Linked DNA regions of Homo sapiens. The protein of the gene in region 2 interacts with the protein of the main gene of each other region in a biochemical or structural test. Each region holds a gene or a part of one and is shown on either strand. Other genes may lie near its edges.

Region 1 (7,035 bases), on a different chromosome or scaffold from region 2:
ATGTATCTGTCTCCCTTACTACACCATGAGCTTCTAAAGCACAGGGAGTATGTCTCTTTTATTCTTCATCGAGTCATCATTACAGTGCCCAGCACACAGCAAGTATTCAAATGTTTGCTGAATAAATGAACACATGCCAAAGGTCTGAGAGTCCGTATCGCAGAACCTCAAGATAGAAAGAAACATTACAGGTCTTCTAATCCAATCATCTTATTCTGAAACAATGGAGGTCAAGGATGCCCTATGATTATTTCATTTACATACCATATGTTCTTTTTGTGGCACAATCAAGGTATAATTAGTAAACAGAAGGAGCCCTTAATGATGAACTGATCCAATCCCTTCCCTTCACAGACGCACAAAAGGGCTTCTATTTTTGGTAATCTTTCCATGGTTGTATTTAGTAGCAATGACTCAGAATCTTACAGAAAGAAAGTTAAACTGGCCCCCACAGGAGGATTTTAGAAAACAAAAGAAAATGAGCTCTAACAAATGTTGATGAAATAGTCCACTGAGTAGTTTCTGGGTTGTTGATACAGGCAGCACTAAGTGTTGTAGGGTCCCAATAAAGGTACATAATTAGGGAACCATTTCACCTCGGACCCCCAGTGGGGCTGTGGTTCTGCCAAAGTTAAGAGAACTGAACTTTCCATCTTTCCTTGAAAGAAAGGAGCGAATGAGAAAACTTGCAGCTGAAATAGAAAATGCTAGTTGTGGCAAACAGAGCAAGTGCGGGAGCTGAAAGGAGGAAGGGTGAGAGATCAAAGATTGAGAGGGAAAGAGAAGAGGGATATGAACACAGAGAGAGATTAAAAAATGGGGTGAGGCTAGAGGGAGGAAGGAGGGGAGGAGGGAAGGAGAGAGAAAGAAAGAAGGAACTACAGTGCGACCCAGAGAGAAAAAAATGGAGAGTAGAACAGAAAGTAGTATCCCCATATCAACCAGTAAAATAAAATAGGGAAATAATAAAAACTACATTAAGAAAAACTAAATTAATAAACGAAGCATGCAGTAAGCCGAGATCGCACCACTGGACTCCAGCCTGGGCAACAAAGCGAGACTCCGTTTCCAAAAAAATAAAAATAAAAATAAAGGAAGCATGTTTGGAGCACCTGCAAAAAGAAAACCTAAAGATAGCAGTAACAGTGCTGAAACAGGAAACAATCATCCCATAAGGAACAAGAACATTCTAGAATCTACAGAAAAGTAGAATGGAAAAAAAAAAAAAAAAAGAATCCAGGCAGTCCCTGGTGAGAGGGATATTCATATCAGAAAAAATGTTCTCATTTCTACATTTATGCTTTGCATATAAAATGTTCTTATTCTAGTGTACCAATCTCAACAAATCCTTAATCATCTTCCTAAAGCCCTGAGTTGAAAAACTTCCCTCTACGAATGTGTATGCATATATGTGTATGTGTGTTTGTGTACAGACACACTATTTAGAATATCTGTAACCTGTGTGACTACTATGCCAACTATTTCACCCTAAAAGGGCAAACTCCTAAATGTTATCTGAGTTTAACTTAATCTGAATATGCTACAAGGTCTCGGAGAATCCCTTAACACAAAACATTTCTTCTGAAATTTTGAGTTCTTTTAAGAAATATTCTGGTGTATTTTCTTTCTCCACATAACAATCTGAAGATACCATGTTAGTAATCCAGTCCTTTTGGGTTAACTCCTTGAAGATGTTTCTTGCTTTATTTAAGTCCAAATAAACAGGCATCATTTCTGTAGTTCTTCTGTAGAAGAAAGATAAATTAAGTATTTTGTTAGATTATCTCCCTAGATGCAAAGTTTCTTCTAGAGCTTGCCCCATTTCAACAAAATTACCTTTTTTCTCAAGTGTGTAACTATAATAAATTGTCTAAATCCAAATGCAATGTAGTAAACATGATTTTTTCTAAAATACCAAAAAATATCAAGGCTGCTTTAACTGTATATACCATAAGACTTTAACTCAGATGCTGTCTTATCTGTAATAGATTAAAAAAATTAATATTTCCCAGTTTAAAAAAAATAGCCACAGAGGGAGGCTGAGACAGGATAATCGCTTGAGCTTGAGAGATCAAGGCTGCAGTGAGTTGTGAACATGCCACTGTACTCCAGCCTGGGTGACAGAGCAAGATCCTGCCTCAGAAAAAGAAAGAAAGAAAAAAAGAAAAGAAAGAAGGAAGGGAAGGAGGGAGGGAGGGAGGGAGGAAAGAAGGGAGGGAAGAAGGGCGGGCCATAGAAAAAAGATAAAGGTTTTTCGAAGGAAGGAAGGAAGGAAGAAAGGACTGACCACAGGAAGGAAGGAAGGAAGACAGAAAAAAGATAAACATTTTTCCCATTTCTAAAAAATACATCCATTTCTTCCCGTTAAATGGACTGAAAAGTGGGAACCAAAAGAGAGGGCTTCTGACCAATAATTTCTTAGTACTTCAATATAAAGTTATTAATGAAATGTTTAAGTATCTTCTCATGGAAGACCTTCTAATGGAAGGTCATGCAGCCATTAAATTATGTTACCGGCTGGGTGCGGTAGCTCACACCTATAATCCCAACACCAGGAGGCTGAGGTGGGAGGACTGCTTGAGGCCAGGAGTTCAAGACCAGCCTGGGCAACATAGCAAAGCTGCTGTCTTTACAAAAGCTAAAAAATTAGCAGGAGGTGGTGGCACGTGCCTGTAGTCCCAGCTACGTGGAAGGCTAAGGTGGGAGTTTTGCTTGAGCCCAAGAGTTTGATGATGCTTGAGCCCAAGAACCAAGATGCTGTAACTCCAGCCTGGGTGATGGAGTGAGACCTTGTCTCAAAAAAAAAAAAATTACCAAAAAAGATAGAATAAAATGTAAAATGGGCAAATATTAGGTAGAAAACAATGTATAAACAATATGATCCAGCTGGGCATGGTGGCTTACACCTGAAATCCCAGCACTTGGGGAGGCCAAGGCTGGTAGATTGCCTGAGCTCAGGAGTTCGAGACCAGCCTGGCCAACATGGTAAAACTCTGGCTCTACAAAAAAATACAAAAATTAGCTGGGTGTAGTGCCATGTGTCTGAAGCCCCAGCTACTCAGGCTGAGGTGGGAGGACTGCTTGAGCCTAGGAGGCAGAGGTTACAATGAGCCAAGATCACAGAACTGCATTAAAGCATGGGCAACGACAGGGCAAGACCCTGTCTCAAAAAAAAAAAGAAAAAAACAAAGAACCAGTATGATCTCATTTTTTTTAAAAGAATACATTTGCATGAAAAAATATAATCATATACGTAAGTGCTAGCTATTACTCTTAAGTGATGGATTATGGAAGATTTTCACTTTCTTTTTATTGTGTGTATTTTTGACATTTTCTACAGCAAACATATATTTACTTTTGTTAAAAAAAATTTTTAAAAAGGGATGAACACACAGCTATTTTACTCTCCAATCATTTTTTTATCCTCTTTCACGGTACTCTTAATACAATTTAATACAATTAATTTATTACATATATTACCTTTTCCTTAAAAAACTTCCAGTTAGACAAGCAGGAGATGAAAATATCTCTTGGATTTCCCTATATTAGTAATAAGACACTGGTTAAACCAAATCACATGGTATACATACATACAGCCTCTTTCTTTACAGCATGAGACATGATAAATACCACATCTTATAACTATCCTTCCAACCTCTCCATTTGTCTCCTATCTGTATGCATATTACCTTGGCTTGGCTTCTAAAAGTCCATTCTGTTTGGTAAATCTCAAAATTTCAGTGGCAAACATGGGAAATAAAAAAGTTTATACATACTCAGAGAAGCCTCAAATAAAGAGGAAAGGCTTGATTTATGGTCAGAACTTTCTTGAACAAACAAAATACTCCCACCCCACCAACTATGCAAGTCCTATTTATTTCTATTCCACTGAAGTAGAAATAAATTACCAGAAATTAAATGGGGGAAGGAGTATGCTCAGTTTCATCTTAGAAGTAGTTGTACAGTTCTTAATTATTTATGCTCTGCAAATTATGATGCAACTATTTTGTGCAACTACTTTGTACAATCATTTTCCAGAATTAGAAAGCCATACCTAAAAATATTTCTAAAAGATGATGTTTGTAAGAATAGGTAGGAGTTCTGTAAACCTATAGGAGTTCTATGGTTTAGAGAAGAATGGTACAAATTGTTCAGCTAAGAATAACAGGTACACAAACTAATGGTTCCAGGATCAAATGGGACTGGGAAACACTATAGACTCTATTTTCTGGCCAGAGAGTCACAATATACATAAACAGAGGCCTGGAGAAGCCCTACAGTAAAGAAAGCTGTCCTCATGGCGCTTACATGCTAGTTGTGATGGGTTAGTTTTATATGTCAACTTGGCTAGGCCATGGTACCAAGATATTTGGTCAAATATTATTCTGGATGTTTCTATGAAAGTATTTTTTTAGATGAGATTAACATTTAAAATGGTAAACTGAGTAAAGCACTTGAACAAGTGAATAAAAAGAAAGGACCTTCCATAATGTGAGTGAGCCTCATCCAGTTGAAGGCCTTAAGAGAAAAGGCTGAGGTCACCCAAAGAAGAGGAAATTCTGCTTTTAGATTGCCTTCAGACTTGAGCTGCAACATCAACTCCTCCCCAAGTCTCCAGCCTGCTGGCCTGCCCTACAGATTTTGGACTTGCCAGCCCCTACAATCTCATAAGCCAATTCCTTAAAATAATCTCTCTCTCTCCCCTCCATAGATACATAGATGGACAGACAGACATGATAGAGATAAAGATAGAGACAGAAATACACACATATCCTATGAGTTTGTTTCTCTGGAAAACCCTGACTACAAAATCTCATATTGCTGTGCAGAACCAGTTTGGGAAATGATACTTGAGAGTGATATATAAGCAGAGAGTCAGACTGTGGGGTGTACCTTTTTGTGCTCTGCCACCGTTTAGTCTCCACATCAGCAATCCATCTCTTTACAGTCCCTTCATTCAGAGTAGGAATTGTCCTCTTCAGATTAACATATGAATTCTGTAAACAAACAGGAAAGTAAAATACAATAATTTAGACACATCAGAGATAGGCACCCAACTTTTAGGTACACTCTAGAGAGTAAAACTGACTTTTAAATATGTGTAATACAGCCCTGGGACAATCACAAAGTGATACTCAACAAATAAGTAATCAATCATTTGCCTGGTTGCCACTTTCTTGTCCAAGGGGGCTTAGACTGAAAGTAAATTTCTTTGAGGACTCAACACTCAGCACTTTATACAAATACAATCAAATTAAACTGAACATCAGACAGCCTTGAAGGGAAGGGAAGATCCTGAAAGAGCTGTGTGCAGAAGTGTGAGGAACTCGATTTCACTTGGTGAAGTAGGGCAGGGAAGTTATGGACTTTTTATTTGCAAGCCCATGAACCTTGGTGTCTTTCTTAGTACTGGCCTGCAAAGTCATTTTTAGAATCTGTCACTCTGTTGTTTGCAAGGATACTGACCAAACATCATTGGCAAGTAGCCCCCAAAAGGTAAGTATAGCCTATGGAAATCACACTGATTAGACATTCACCAGAGAAAAATCTGCTGATTTTTGTGGGAAAATACTGATGTAGTTTAGACAATAAAGGATCAGTAATGTCCAGCTATCCCCCAAAAAGTCAGCCTGGTAAACTGATGATTTTGGAATTCACCAAACTGGGATACTAGAACCCTTAGTTTTGCTTAAAATACCAGGTTATAGAACACCTGGAGATCTATTTTTACCTCTTTCTTTATCCAGAGCAAAATGCTTTGATTCCCTCCAGCAATCATTATTAACTCCTTTTCTGAGGTATGGCTTTCTGAAAGGATGCACAAAGAGTAAGAGTTTTAGAAAGTCATTTGGCACAAACATGCATGTTCAATTTAAATAACTTCAGATTCTTCTTAAACGTAGTCATCTTTTCTTCTTAATAGACAAAACTTAGTACATTTTCTGCCAATTAAGCAGCTGAAATACATATCCTTTGGAGTAAAGTCTAGTTGGCAAACATAGGTAATTCACAAGGTGGACATGTGACATCAGTTTAATATACATAATACAAATATTTATATATAAAATGCAAATATTTGATTAGCTAAATGTTATCAGTTTAATTCAACTCCCATTACTAAAAACCATGTTTTCAAGATTTAAGCAATGACTGCTGGCTATAAAGAATATAAGTACTTTAAGCCCATGTAACTGTTATAAGGAATCAAAGATAATACATGCTGCTTAAGGAAATAACTCTGTTCGTTTTCCTACAAGAAATGAGTAGATTTTGTTACTTGAGGTCACCACTAAGCTTTCAGAAACAAGTAACAGAAATGCTCCAAGGTGCTTCTACAATGGAGTGTTTCAGAGCTCAGACTCTGAGGTCATAAAGGGCACGGGTTCAACTCCAGACAAACCACTTACTGGCCATGATTAAGTGGCTAACCCTTTTCTCTCCAAGTCTCTTTATCCTCCAGTAAAAGAGGAGTGACAGAATACACCTCCCAGGAACTGTTACAAGGATTGGTGAGATAACACAAGTAAGTGCTGAGCACAGTTCAGTGCCAGGTATACGTTGATTGCTCATTATTCTGAGGGTTTTATATGACTGTGGATCAACTTAACCAGGGCAACCAGCCAATTACAAGAATTAGTAAACAACTAATTACAAGAATTAGTAAGTCTCTTGCAAACTGGAATGAGAGCTGCATATGCCTCTGAATCCATTGTCTATTTTATCATTTAAATTCACATTAATCCTAATCTGAAGGAGTAATATAGAATAATTATTTTGCCTCAGTAAATTAGACTGACTCTTGAATTGTTTACCAGTAAAAAATGAAACCAGTATTTAGAGAAACTCCCTTCATAGTCATATGTTGCTTTCTTTGCCACATTACCTAGTTAGAAAAATCATTTTCTCTAAAAAGATACTATGCCAAACCCTATGTTCCTATAGAATTTACCAAGTTTGAGTTCTTCACTTGATGATACTTTCACTGGAAGCGGCATCAGCTGGTCACGTGTTCCACCATTTCCCAGTTGTCCATCT
Region 2 (3,821 bases):
TGAGGCACAGAGCAGCAAGGGCCGAAGGGTGAGTCAGGGCTGCGCTGGCTTCTGCCAGTTTCATCACCCAGAACTGCGGCCCAACCAGGAGAGGTGACAGTGCCCAGGGTCACCAGGCAGGCAGGCTTTGCAGGCTCCAGGGTGGCCGCAGAGCCCCTTTACCAAGACCCCTCCAGCCCCACGTGGAGGGGAGCCTGAGGCCTGGAAGGAGAAGGACCACTTGCCCAAACTGTTCATAGGCAAGGCAGGGGGCCTGGGTTCTGGCTAGTCTTTGTGTTTCCTACTCTGTGACCTTTGCGCCTCTCCCAGCCTGTGTCTTGGTCTACAACACGGGGACAGCCATCACCCACCAGGTCCCTGGGCAGAAGTGAGGAGGTGTCAGCTGCCCCCTGCAGTGCTTGGTCTTCATGCATTGAGCACCTGAGTTGTATATAGCTGCACAGATGGGTAAACTGAGACCCTGAGCGGGAATAACAACCATATTGGGTCAGAGGGCACCCAACACCAGACACGCACAAGTGATCATAGCAGGAACCAGTTTATTGGTTGAGGTGGTGGGGAACAGGGGGGTTGGAGGCACACCATGAGGAGCGAGGGCTCAGCTCTCCCCAGGGCCCTGGAAATCCATGCCCTCCACCAAGTCCTGCAGGTAGGCCTTGTACTGGTCGGAGGTGAGGGAGAGTGGGTGGCTGTTGGAAATGTGCAGGTCCACAGTATTCTCCAGGGAGGAGGCACCCCCTACCCGGGCCATTTCTACCAAGGCCCTGAGGCACGTGGGCACAACCTGCAGGGGAAGTGGGGACAGGAGTCAGGGAAAACACCCAGCCACTGTCCACCAAGGTAGGAGTCAGGGCTTGGAGGACTACAACTCCCTGCAGCCCCTGCTGTAACCTAGGATGAACCATAGGCCTAGGGCTGCTGGGAGTTGTAGTTTTACACACACACACACACACACACACACACACACACACACACACACCCCCTGCTGTAACTGAACCATAGGCCTAGGGCTGCTGGGAGTTGTAGTTTTACACACACACACAAACACACACACACACACACGTCAGGGCTGAGCAGTCTGTGATCTTGACTCCTGGGAGCCACAGCCATGGCCTCACAATGGCAGCTAAAACTTGAGTCCACCAGCTTCTACATGGTTTAGAGCAGGGGTCCCCAACCCCCCTACGGCTTGTTAGGGACCAGGTTGCACAGCAGGATGTGAGCAGCGGGTGGGGGAATATTACTGCCTGAGCTCTGCCTTCTGTGAGATCAGCGGCAGCATTAGATTCTCAGAGGAGCACAAACTCTATCGAACTGCGCACGTGAGGGATCGGCTGCTCCTTAAGAGAATCTAATGCCTGATGATCTGCAGTGGAGCAGTTTCATCCCGAAACCACACCTCCCTGTCCGTGGAAATATTATCTTCCATGAGACTGGTCCCTGGTGCCAAATAGTTTGGGGGCCACTGGTTTAGAGAGTTCAAAACAGGTTCTGCAGGTGAGGCCATGGGAAGGAGCTCCCGGGGATGAAAAACTGGTTATTGCAGAGATCTTGGAAGTTGCAGTTTTTTAGAGGGCCCTCTGGGAGTTGGAGTTCCTGGGAGCAACCTCTTCCCTCTGTAAGGCCACCCCTTTCAGCCCCAGGGACTCAGGTCTGCAGGCACCTTGACCATCACGAGCCTCTTGGTCCACGGCTGGTCCTGGGGCCATGACTCCCCCACACAGAACCAGAGGGCATAGCGTGGTGAGCGTCCGCTTCCTTCCGTGAAGGTAATCAGATCTGGGGGCCCAGGAGCCTAGTCAGGGATGAGAAGAGGACCCTCTACCCACCCTTCCCCGTAAACTTGAATGATAACCCCCACCACCTCCCCTGACCTAAGGCCCTCTGCTGCCTCGACCAGGGGACTGCTTGTTTGGGGAAAGTCCCCTCCTTCCCTCCCTCCCTCCCTCCCATCAGGGTGGGGTTGTTGGAAGGCCACACCCCCAAGCCCCCAAGCCTCAGCATTCATAACAGGCCCAGAGTAGGGGGCCCATGCTCCCAAGGATGCTCAGTGAATCTGGAGAAGCTGGTTGGCATTCAGTCCTGTCTGAGGCTGCATTGTCCAATTGCAGCCATTAGTCATGTAAGGTTATTTCAGTTTAAATTGTAACCAATTAAAACGAATCACGTCCTGGTTGCACTCGCCTCACCTGAGTGCTTGGCCCCTGTGGCTAGTGGCTGCTGCACCGGACAGTGCAGGTGACTGTCATTTCCATCATGGCAGAAAGTGCCACTGCACAGCGAAACCCTAAGGGATGTAGCTTTCCTGCTATTGGTCTGTTCACCATCATTAGTTACGATGATGATGACAGTGGCAGCTAATTCCCTGAGCAGGCTCTGTGTACTGGGCCTGTGTCTCACCCCAGCGCTGGCAGGCAGGTAGAGAGAGGAGACCATCCTTGGATTCCACGGGCTCAGGGCAAAGTCCTTTGCCTCGGTTATACAGCGGGCCAAGGGCAGCCAGCGTCTGAATTCAGTCCTAATCATGAGTTCTTTTTTTTTTGTTGTTCGAGATGGAGTCTTACTCTGTCACCAGGCTAGAGTGCAGTGGTGCGATCTCAGCTCACTGCAATCTCCGCCTCCTGGGTTCAAGCAATTCTCCTGCCTCAGCCTCCCGAGTAGCTGGGATTACAGGCACGTGCCACCACGCCCGACTATTTTTTTGTATCTTTAGTAGAGATGGGGTTTCACTATGTTGACCAGGCTGGTCTCGAACTCCTGAACTTGTCATCTGCCCACCTCAGCCTCCCAAAGTGCTGGGACTACAGGCGTGAGCCACCGTGCCCGGCCAATCCTGAGTTGTTAACCACTGTGCAGGCTGCTTTGTACTGGCCAGGTCGAAGCCCCTGTCTCACTCACCTACAATGAAGGGCCCCAGGTCAAACACGCCTCCTTCCTTGTCCTTGGGGACCTCGCCATCAGGCCCATGCCCGCTGTTGGGGAGCAGCTCCTCGCTCACTGCCCAGTATGTGTGGCAGTGCCCCAGCCGCTGGGCCCAGAGCCACTGCCCGGCCCGCCAGAGAGCCAGTCCCCCACCCAGGCAGCTCAGCACATGCCTCACGTAGCTCATCACTCCCCTGTCTGTCAGGGACATGCCAGGGTCTGGCAGTGTGACTGGCCATCCAGGCAGCGTCCTGTCTCCCACTTCGGACCCCACCAGCCGCAGGCCCTCCGGGCAGGAGATGGTCTGCTGGAAGACTTGGCGGCCCCGGTAGAAGGCTGTCACCTCGAACTCCCACTCTGAGCAGCGGCAGCAGCGGCATGAAGGGGAGAGGGGTTGAGAATCAGGGGCTGCCGCCCAGACCTCAGCCCTCCCAGCCTGCAGCTGACACTCACCTTCCCCCGGCACCAACAGCCGCTTCAGTGGGTTCTCAGAGGGCCCCAGGTTTGGGAAGGGAGTGGGATTGTCCAAGCTGGGGCTCCGCAGGGGCTGAGGGCAGGGCTCAGGGGCTACAGCCAGGCTTGGGGGTCCCGGATCTGGGAGTGGGGCCAACACCATGTTACCCAGTAACTCATCCAGAATGTCTTCCTGGAGGGAAACAAAAAAAGAGAATCAGGCATTTCCATATCCTTTTCTGGAGACTTCATATGGACCAGGTCTGTTCTCAGCAACGCAGGGAGGTCAGGCTTGAGCTCTGCCTTCAAGGGGCTTCCAGCCTGGGGACAGAGCCAGCCATGGCATCAACAGCCAAACAAACACTAATGAACGCCAGGTGCTACCATTCCAACCCAAGGATCTGGCTCTATGCAGGTAAGACCTGGGCAAAGCAGGCTGGGTAGAA
Region 3 (7,035 bases), on a different chromosome or scaffold from region 2:
TAATAGATGAAGAGGGAGTCTGAGCCCTACAACCTCATTTGAATTCCTGGATCCTGCTGCGCCTGAAACTACATCTACCTTTTCTGATGCCCCAATTATGTAAGTCAATAAGTGTCTTCCGTTGTTTAAACTGCTTTTGAATTCAGCTTCTATCATTTTCAAACAAAAATCCTGACATAGGTTGGCAGTCATGGGCAAGAAGAAAAAAAATTTCTTTTGTTTGGAGTTCCATTAATGATGCTGTAACACTGAGAGTTCAAAACTACCCGCCCCCTCTACACACACAGATGCATATGGAATGAGTTTAAGTGCAAGGACATCCTCCCCCATCCCTCATAAGAGGAGTCATGCCAATTGGCCATGTTAATAGAGTTTTTTAACATAAAGTTTTATGTATTTAAAAAAAACAGTCTGAAGTATTGTACAATATAAGTGCTGTCTTAATACAAATCACTGGTGGAAAGGAGCAGGACATACCCTCAGCAAAGGTCATACAATAGGGGGTAAAACGTTTGTGTTCTTGAGGGAGAAGTTTTTGCTCTGTCCTGGGGAGGTCATGGACACCTCCGCCCCGACAGCTGCCTCTGACTTCTTGGGAGCGTCTACCAGTTGAGGCAGCTGAACAGTGTCAGCTCCGTGCTGGAGACAGTCCTGCTGATCACCTGAATGCTGAACATGCTTCGTGGGGCTATCTTTTGTTTTCTCTGTAGTCTCTTTGGTGATCTCATCTGCTAAAGGAGAGAGAAGACAGAAGGGAACAAGATTCAAATGTGGATTATATGTTAATTGTCCTTTAGGTTGTACATCACTTAGTGGAAACGATGACCGTGATGATATAAAAACAGTTCATTTGTAAAGCACCTCCAATGTGCCGGGCATTATTCTAAGCACTGTACATTTACTAATTCGTCTGATCATTTCAGCGACCCTGGAGAACAGGCTTTATTCTCATTCTCATAAATGGAGATACTGAGCTACAGAGAGGTTAAGTCCACACCTGATAAGTGGTAGAACCAGAATTTAATCCCCAGGTAACCTGACTCTTGTGACCATGTACCTAACCACTAGGCTATATTGCATATAAAAATTTGCATAATGCCATAATCTGGCACTGACAGAAATTCTAAAGGTAATTATAGGGCATAAAGGGGTGGACGCAGTTAATGAAAAAGGGAGGAGGAGAAAGGAAATTGATTATAGGAGAAAAATGGAAAATCCTAATAAGGGGCAAAAAAGATCCAGGCTAATGCCAAATTTCCCTGAAAAGGAAAATCCCAAAGGTAAGAAATGGCAGGCTAGTCATGATGTAGCCACAAGAATTATCCCAGGTTGAGGTTAGAGAAATTGACATGCAAATCCTTCAGAAATGCTTAAACAGCATATTAAACAGAATATTAAAAACAAAGATTTTAATTTCCAGACTACAGAACTGGGGCTTCAAAAATATCACAAGGAGATTTACAGAATTCTAGAATATTAATTCCCGGACTGTGGGACTAGGACTGGTTATTTGACAGGCTGTACCTTTTCTGCTCGAGTGATGACAGCCTTGAACCTTGTCCTTCCTTGTCTCAGAGGGGAAAAAGGAATTGGATTTCCTCAGGGTCTGGGGCCTGGGCTGTGGCTTGAGGTTCCGAGACTGATGAATCCAAGCATGCTTGAGGGCCTGGTCCGGGGTCATGCGAAGAGAAGGTTCCCATCTGCACCCCAACAAAGCCCCACATGGGTTATTGTTTTATTTCCTTTTAATATATTAAAACATTTTTAAAACCCAATAAAGATTTTTATTTAAGCTATGTTGATATCTCAAAGATATATAATCATAGAACAGAGATTATGGCATATAACTTAAAAGTACCTGGAAACAACTAATGGAAATAATCTTTTTAGAAGATGTGTATAACAAGCCAGGGAATATATATTACAGTCCAAGTCTTCCAGCATTCCTAGAAATTTCCTTATAAGAAATATTATTTTACAAAAGCTTAATCAATAGGATTTAGGGTTTGGTAAGCTAAGAATATTAAAACAAAGATTTCAATTTCCAGACTACAGAATTGGGGCTTCAAAAATATTGCAAGGAGATTTACAGAATTCTAGAATATTAAGATTTGCAAGGGGACTTGGATATAATCCAATCAAACTTGTAATACAGTAGCAGAATACATTGACTGAACTACCATCATGGAATCACCCTGCAATTCTTGAGTAATTTCAGTGACAAGATACTAACTCACAGAACCATCTATTCCAATTCTGAAAAAACTCCGATTCTTTAAAAGTTCTTGACTTTTATTGTGCCAAAACTGGTTTGCTTCCCAGTAACTTTTACCCAGGTCCTAATTCATCAACACATTACCATCACACAAAATAACTATCCTAATTTTATGGTTCAGTCCTTCAACCATCTGAAAATATTTACATCGCTACTAACTAATGATCATATGATATGGTTTTCACCATCTGACCACCTTCTGAAATAAGGATATTTTAGCAGTTGTCTAACTGGTGTCCATCATGGTGGGAATAGCTTCTATAACTGCAGGGAGACAGTATTAACATTCTAGACTCATTAAGGTCCTAAAACAGCTCAAACTCTCATTTCTGTGTCAAATGAATTGCTGTTAAACAACATCTCTCCTTTCCTGGACTTCTGGAGTTCGCCTACAAAGTCTAGACACGGGGCTTTACATTTATGCCTATTGAACTTGGCTCAAAACTTTTAGTCTCAAAGATTTTCTAATTAGCAATATATATATATAAGATAACAGTCCCCATCAGCCTGACTGCCTCTTGCAAGTTATGAGTAATCAGTCCTTTGCACTAAAGAAGAAAATAATGCCTTCCTTGGTGCTGAGCTGTGTTCTGGATGGTTGAGGTTTCTGGATAACCCATCTGTCTCAGCAGTTGGTTTCTGTCATTTGTTAAGGTAGGGGTAAAGATGGGGTACAGGATCCTTCCCTACCTTGATTATTCTGATGAGTGAATAGCATGACCCCCTACGATGGGAATACTTTCATCATTACCTCATGGTTCACCCTCTGAGCTAGTACTGAAATTCCAGAGAGCACAGATGCCAGAAGAGTATTTTGATAACATCACTCCATCCAACTGGAAGAATAAGAGACTGTAATGATATGGTCTTCTAAAAATACTAAATTATAGGACTGATAGAACTGGAAGGGAGCTTAGGAATACCGTATTTTATAGGAAAGAACACTGAGGCCCAGAAAAAAGTGATGACTTGCCAAGTATCACATGGATAATCTACTTGCCACTCTGTGGAGATAGATTTACCTCTTTAATAGTCGTAAAATAATAAGAATAGCTAACGTTTTCTAAACACCTTTTAAACTGGGTGCTGTGCTGGGTACTACGACTTAAGTACAGATCTAATTTCTAAGATTCAAAATATGCATATAGATTATAAAAAGTTGTACATAATAAATGGTTTACAGCTCACCTTCCCCCTAATTCCCTAATATAAGACGATTTGGGTACTAAATCCTAGGGGGAGGGGGACAGGCCCTGAAACCAGTTTACACTGGATGTGTATGCAAATCATTACAACAAGCAGTCAGGGGGTTGGCTTCAGCTCACAGAGCAGAAGACATTTAGGACTGGCAAACAATCTCACTGCCAGGCAGTTTGAGGCCAGGAAGATGACAAACTCTACCATACGCTGTGTATTCCAGGGCAGGTCACTTAATCTCTTTGAACCCCAACCTCCATACGTGCAAAACAGAGCAAATCATCTGCCCTGACAACCACACAGTAGGGAGAGATGTCTGATGAAACAACAGATGTGGAAGCAATTTGTAGACTTTAAAGCTCTATTGTTAGCATTTCTTGTTACTTTTATAACTATCTCCCAGCCTTAGTCTTTCACCAGCAAACGTGTGTCAAAGTACAGCATTTAAGAGGAAACCCAGAAGCAGAGATGTCCCAACAAACTCACACCAAACACCTTCTGAGAAAGTCCAGGAAGCTGGTGTCATAGGTTTTCAGCACCATCGTGAGGTCCTTGGAATCTGGGTATCTTTTTTTCCCCCTGTTGTTGGTTATATTTTTAGGAAAACCTTTGGAATCTGTAGAGATAGAACATTCTGTATTTAGTTTCAGGTGTAAATCTTTAGTGGTCACATGATGCTGCTGCTTAGAGTGGCCTCTGTAGCTCTTTTGCTCTCTGTCTTACACACTCGCCTCATGCCACACCCCAATAAACACACACACACACACTCAGTTTGAAATAACCATGTGTAGATTACCCAAGGAATGCAATTTACTTTAAAAATTGATTTTTTCCTACTATTCAGTATGTTCTGAACTTCCTTCCCACTGCCTCCTCTCCAAATCAAAGAAATAATTTAAATGGCTTAACACCAACCAAGATAAAATAATAATGCTAATGATAATAATGACAATGGTAAAGTAAATGTTAAGTGACAAGGTCCTGTGAAATTGTACAAATATCCATTTCCTTTTGGATCATGGCCTTAGCCCTCCCACTTCATCCTACATTGTCCTTTTTACCAATGACCAAAGAAGAATCAAGCTCACAGTCTTATCAATAACAAAGCTCCTAAAGTCATGATCATGTAATTGTTTTTTCTCACTCTGGCCCTCATCAGTCATTCCCTCCATCCCCTTCTTACTACCTGAGCCACCTGGGCCACCTAAGTATAATATCTTACCAGCCTTGAGACAACACCATTTTGCTGCTAATTAGGGGTATTAACTAGGAGTCGCCCGGGGCAGAGGAGCAGTTGGCAGCCCAAACCTGGGAAAGGAACAGTCAAGAACTGAAGTGGACAACCGTGTTTCCCAAACTTATTTTGTCATAAGAATCACAAGGAGCCGTCATTAAAAACGTCGAATCCTGGGTCCTATCGCAATCTTCCCATAGCATAGCTTATAGAAGAGAATCACAGGAATTCGCTTTTTTGCCAAGTCCCCAAATGATTCTTACATTTGGATAGAGTTTGGAAAACACTGACGAAGATGCAGTTCTCAGCAACATTCCTTCTTTCACAGGAAGTGAAGACATGGATATTGCTGCCAAAACCCCATCACCATCCTAAAGCCTAGTGCTGATGGTAGAAATAAGGAACTCTATGAAGTAGACATGCCTATGTCTTTAGTACGTTCCTACGAAGGTGCTCTGTGTTCCCTTCCTGCTAGTCCCCACCTAGATGCTATCTCATGAGTTCAGAGTTACAGGCTCAAGATATGTCTTCCCACAGTGACTCTGCCTAATCCAAAAGGCTGAATTATTAAGTTGTGGGTAGAAAAAGTATATTTGGGATCCAAAGACCAGTTCGCGTGCTCCATGTGTAAATTATACTGGGGAGCCAGCCAGATCCTTTGCCTACCGCCAGATTGCTCGGTTAATGTGTGGTCACCATTCTATGGCAACCAGGACACTGCCCTGCTCAGAGGCAAGGTCTCCAAAGCTCCAGCCATGATTACCAGATGATGTTTAAAAGAATTAACCATTGGAATGAATGGCATGGAACCAACTAATCAGAATGGAAGACAGCCCTGGCACTGGAGTAGGATCATAGAGAACTTCTGCTTGCTTGGCCTTCAGCTTTTAGGTTTTTGGATCATGGAGAGTTTAAGGAGTCCTGGGAGAGGGCCAGGGAGCCTGCAGTTGTAGCAGGGCTCAGGGCTGTGGCTTTTTACCAAATGGTACAGAAATAGACAAATTATAACCCCCACATGGCTGAATCAGTTCATACTGACCAGCATGACCCAAACCCTTTTATCCTAAAGGATCTCCCCACGAGAGTGTTTTGGACCTTCCTACTGATGGAGCAAGTTGTGAACAGAAATTGTGTGATTTGCATACATATTCAGAAGCTGCTCGCAGTTGAAAATCAGAGGTGGGAGGGCCAGGAATGTCTGGGATTGTGTGGTCAGAGGGAGTCCATGAACCGACCTGACAACAATGGCTGGTCAGAAATGTCACTCCAGGTAGCATGGAGTCCCTGTCTGTGGAGTTCCCTTTTCCTCCTATTTGGCTTTGCTCCACTTTGCTGACCTTCAGCCCACTCTGGCTGTTTCTATCTGGGACTCTTAGCTTCCTGTGGTTCTTTAAAGGGATTTTAGGTATGAGATTTGCTGCATCTTTTTGGTGCGTGTACGTTGAAAGCCCTGCCTCAGTTGATACCTTGTCGACCCATCCTTCCATCTTGTATAGGACCACTTAAATAGAAAGGCGGAGGATCATAAAAATCCAGAATTCTGGGAATTATGAGGAGAGGGGCAGCCTGGACTGTGGACGAAGTTTACTCCCAACAATCAGACAGATGACACGTACATAACTACCAGCCACAACACATCAAAGCAAAACTAAGTCCTTGCTTAACCATTGGCAATGAACCTGGCACAGTAAGGTCTGGAGGATAAGAAGAATTTTAGCAGGGGAAACAATAATGCAGCAATGGAATTTTCCACTATTCTTGAAATGAAGCTTCTGCTCTTTGATTTCCCTGCACAGTGCATAGTGTGAGAGGGCAAGTTGCTTGGGAGAGTGGGGAGAACTTCCGGGAGAGGATGCAGTTACAATATTTTGAGGTTGCAATATTTGCTGATAGCTCTTCTGAGCAGGGACCTGGCTATTCTCCTCCTCCTGAGCATTTTTACTGTCAAGACCCTGTTCCCACTGTGACTCCCCCATCCCATCTCCAACATGCTATCCGATTCCCCTGCTCATTATCTTTTACTTCTCTGAAAGACGCTCTTAATCACAGCCCTTTGGTATGTGGCCAGGGGAAAAGAATGAAATGAGCCTTAAGGTATGGCAGGTGTCTTCAAGGCCTGTGACACCTCATGAGACACACTAGGACTTACCAAAGAATGTCTGTCTCCTGGAGGCTGTCTGAATGAAGCCGGCTGGCGGCAGACCCAGCACCTTAATAAGGATAATTCAATTGGTTCATTCTTTGTGGGAGCACAGATTCAAAGGCTGAGGGGTGGAGCGTACTTTGGCCAAGCTTTGCCTTCTACAGATAAGGATTCAAAGCATTAAGT

Evidence for each region. Proteins that work in one complex are often made in the same cells at the same time.
Region 1: of the proteins of IRF3 (region 2) and HERC5, one has a biochemical effect on the other in vitro, tested with the Homo sapiens proteins (one study listed by BioGRID).
Region 3: the proteins of IRF3 (region 2) and DYRK4 form a complex in vitro, tested with the Homo sapiens proteins (one study listed by BioGRID).

What each region holds. Positions count from the first base shown.
Region 1 is NC_000004.12:88,467,119-88,474,153, reverse strand, and holds part of HERC5 (E3 ISG15--protein ligase HERC5), read right to left. Parts: coding exon 6,950-7,035; intron 6,524-6,949; exon of another isoform or gene 6,448-6,523; intron 5,809-6,447; coding exon 5,732-5,808; intron 4,998-5,731; coding exon 4,894-4,997; intron 3,541-4,893; coding exon 3,481-3,540; intron 1,746-3,480; coding exon 1,652-1,745; intron 1-1,651.
Region 2 is NC_000019.10:49,659,050-49,662,870, forward strand, and holds the end of IRF3 (interferon regulatory factor 3), read right to left. Parts: intron 3,569-3,821; coding exon 3,376-3,568; intron 3,280-3,375; coding exon 2,899-3,279; exon of another isoform or gene 2,401-2,898; intron 1,796-2,400; coding exon of another isoform or gene 1,780-1,795; coding exon 1,664-1,779; intron 785-1,663; coding exon 599-784; coding exon of another isoform or gene 540-598; 3' UTR 523-539; downstream 1-522.
Region 3 is NC_000012.12:4,607,208-4,614,242, reverse strand, and holds the end of DYRK4 (dual specificity tyrosine-phosphorylation-regulated kinase 4), read right to left. Parts: intron 6,917-7,035; coding exon 6,856-6,916; intron 4,089-6,855; coding exon 3,959-4,088; intron 1,701-3,958; coding exon 1,525-1,700; intron 732-1,524; coding exon of another isoform or gene 729-731; coding exon 490-728; 3' UTR 368-489; downstream 1-367. UniProt on the Homo sapiens protein: Possible non-essential role in spermiogenesis.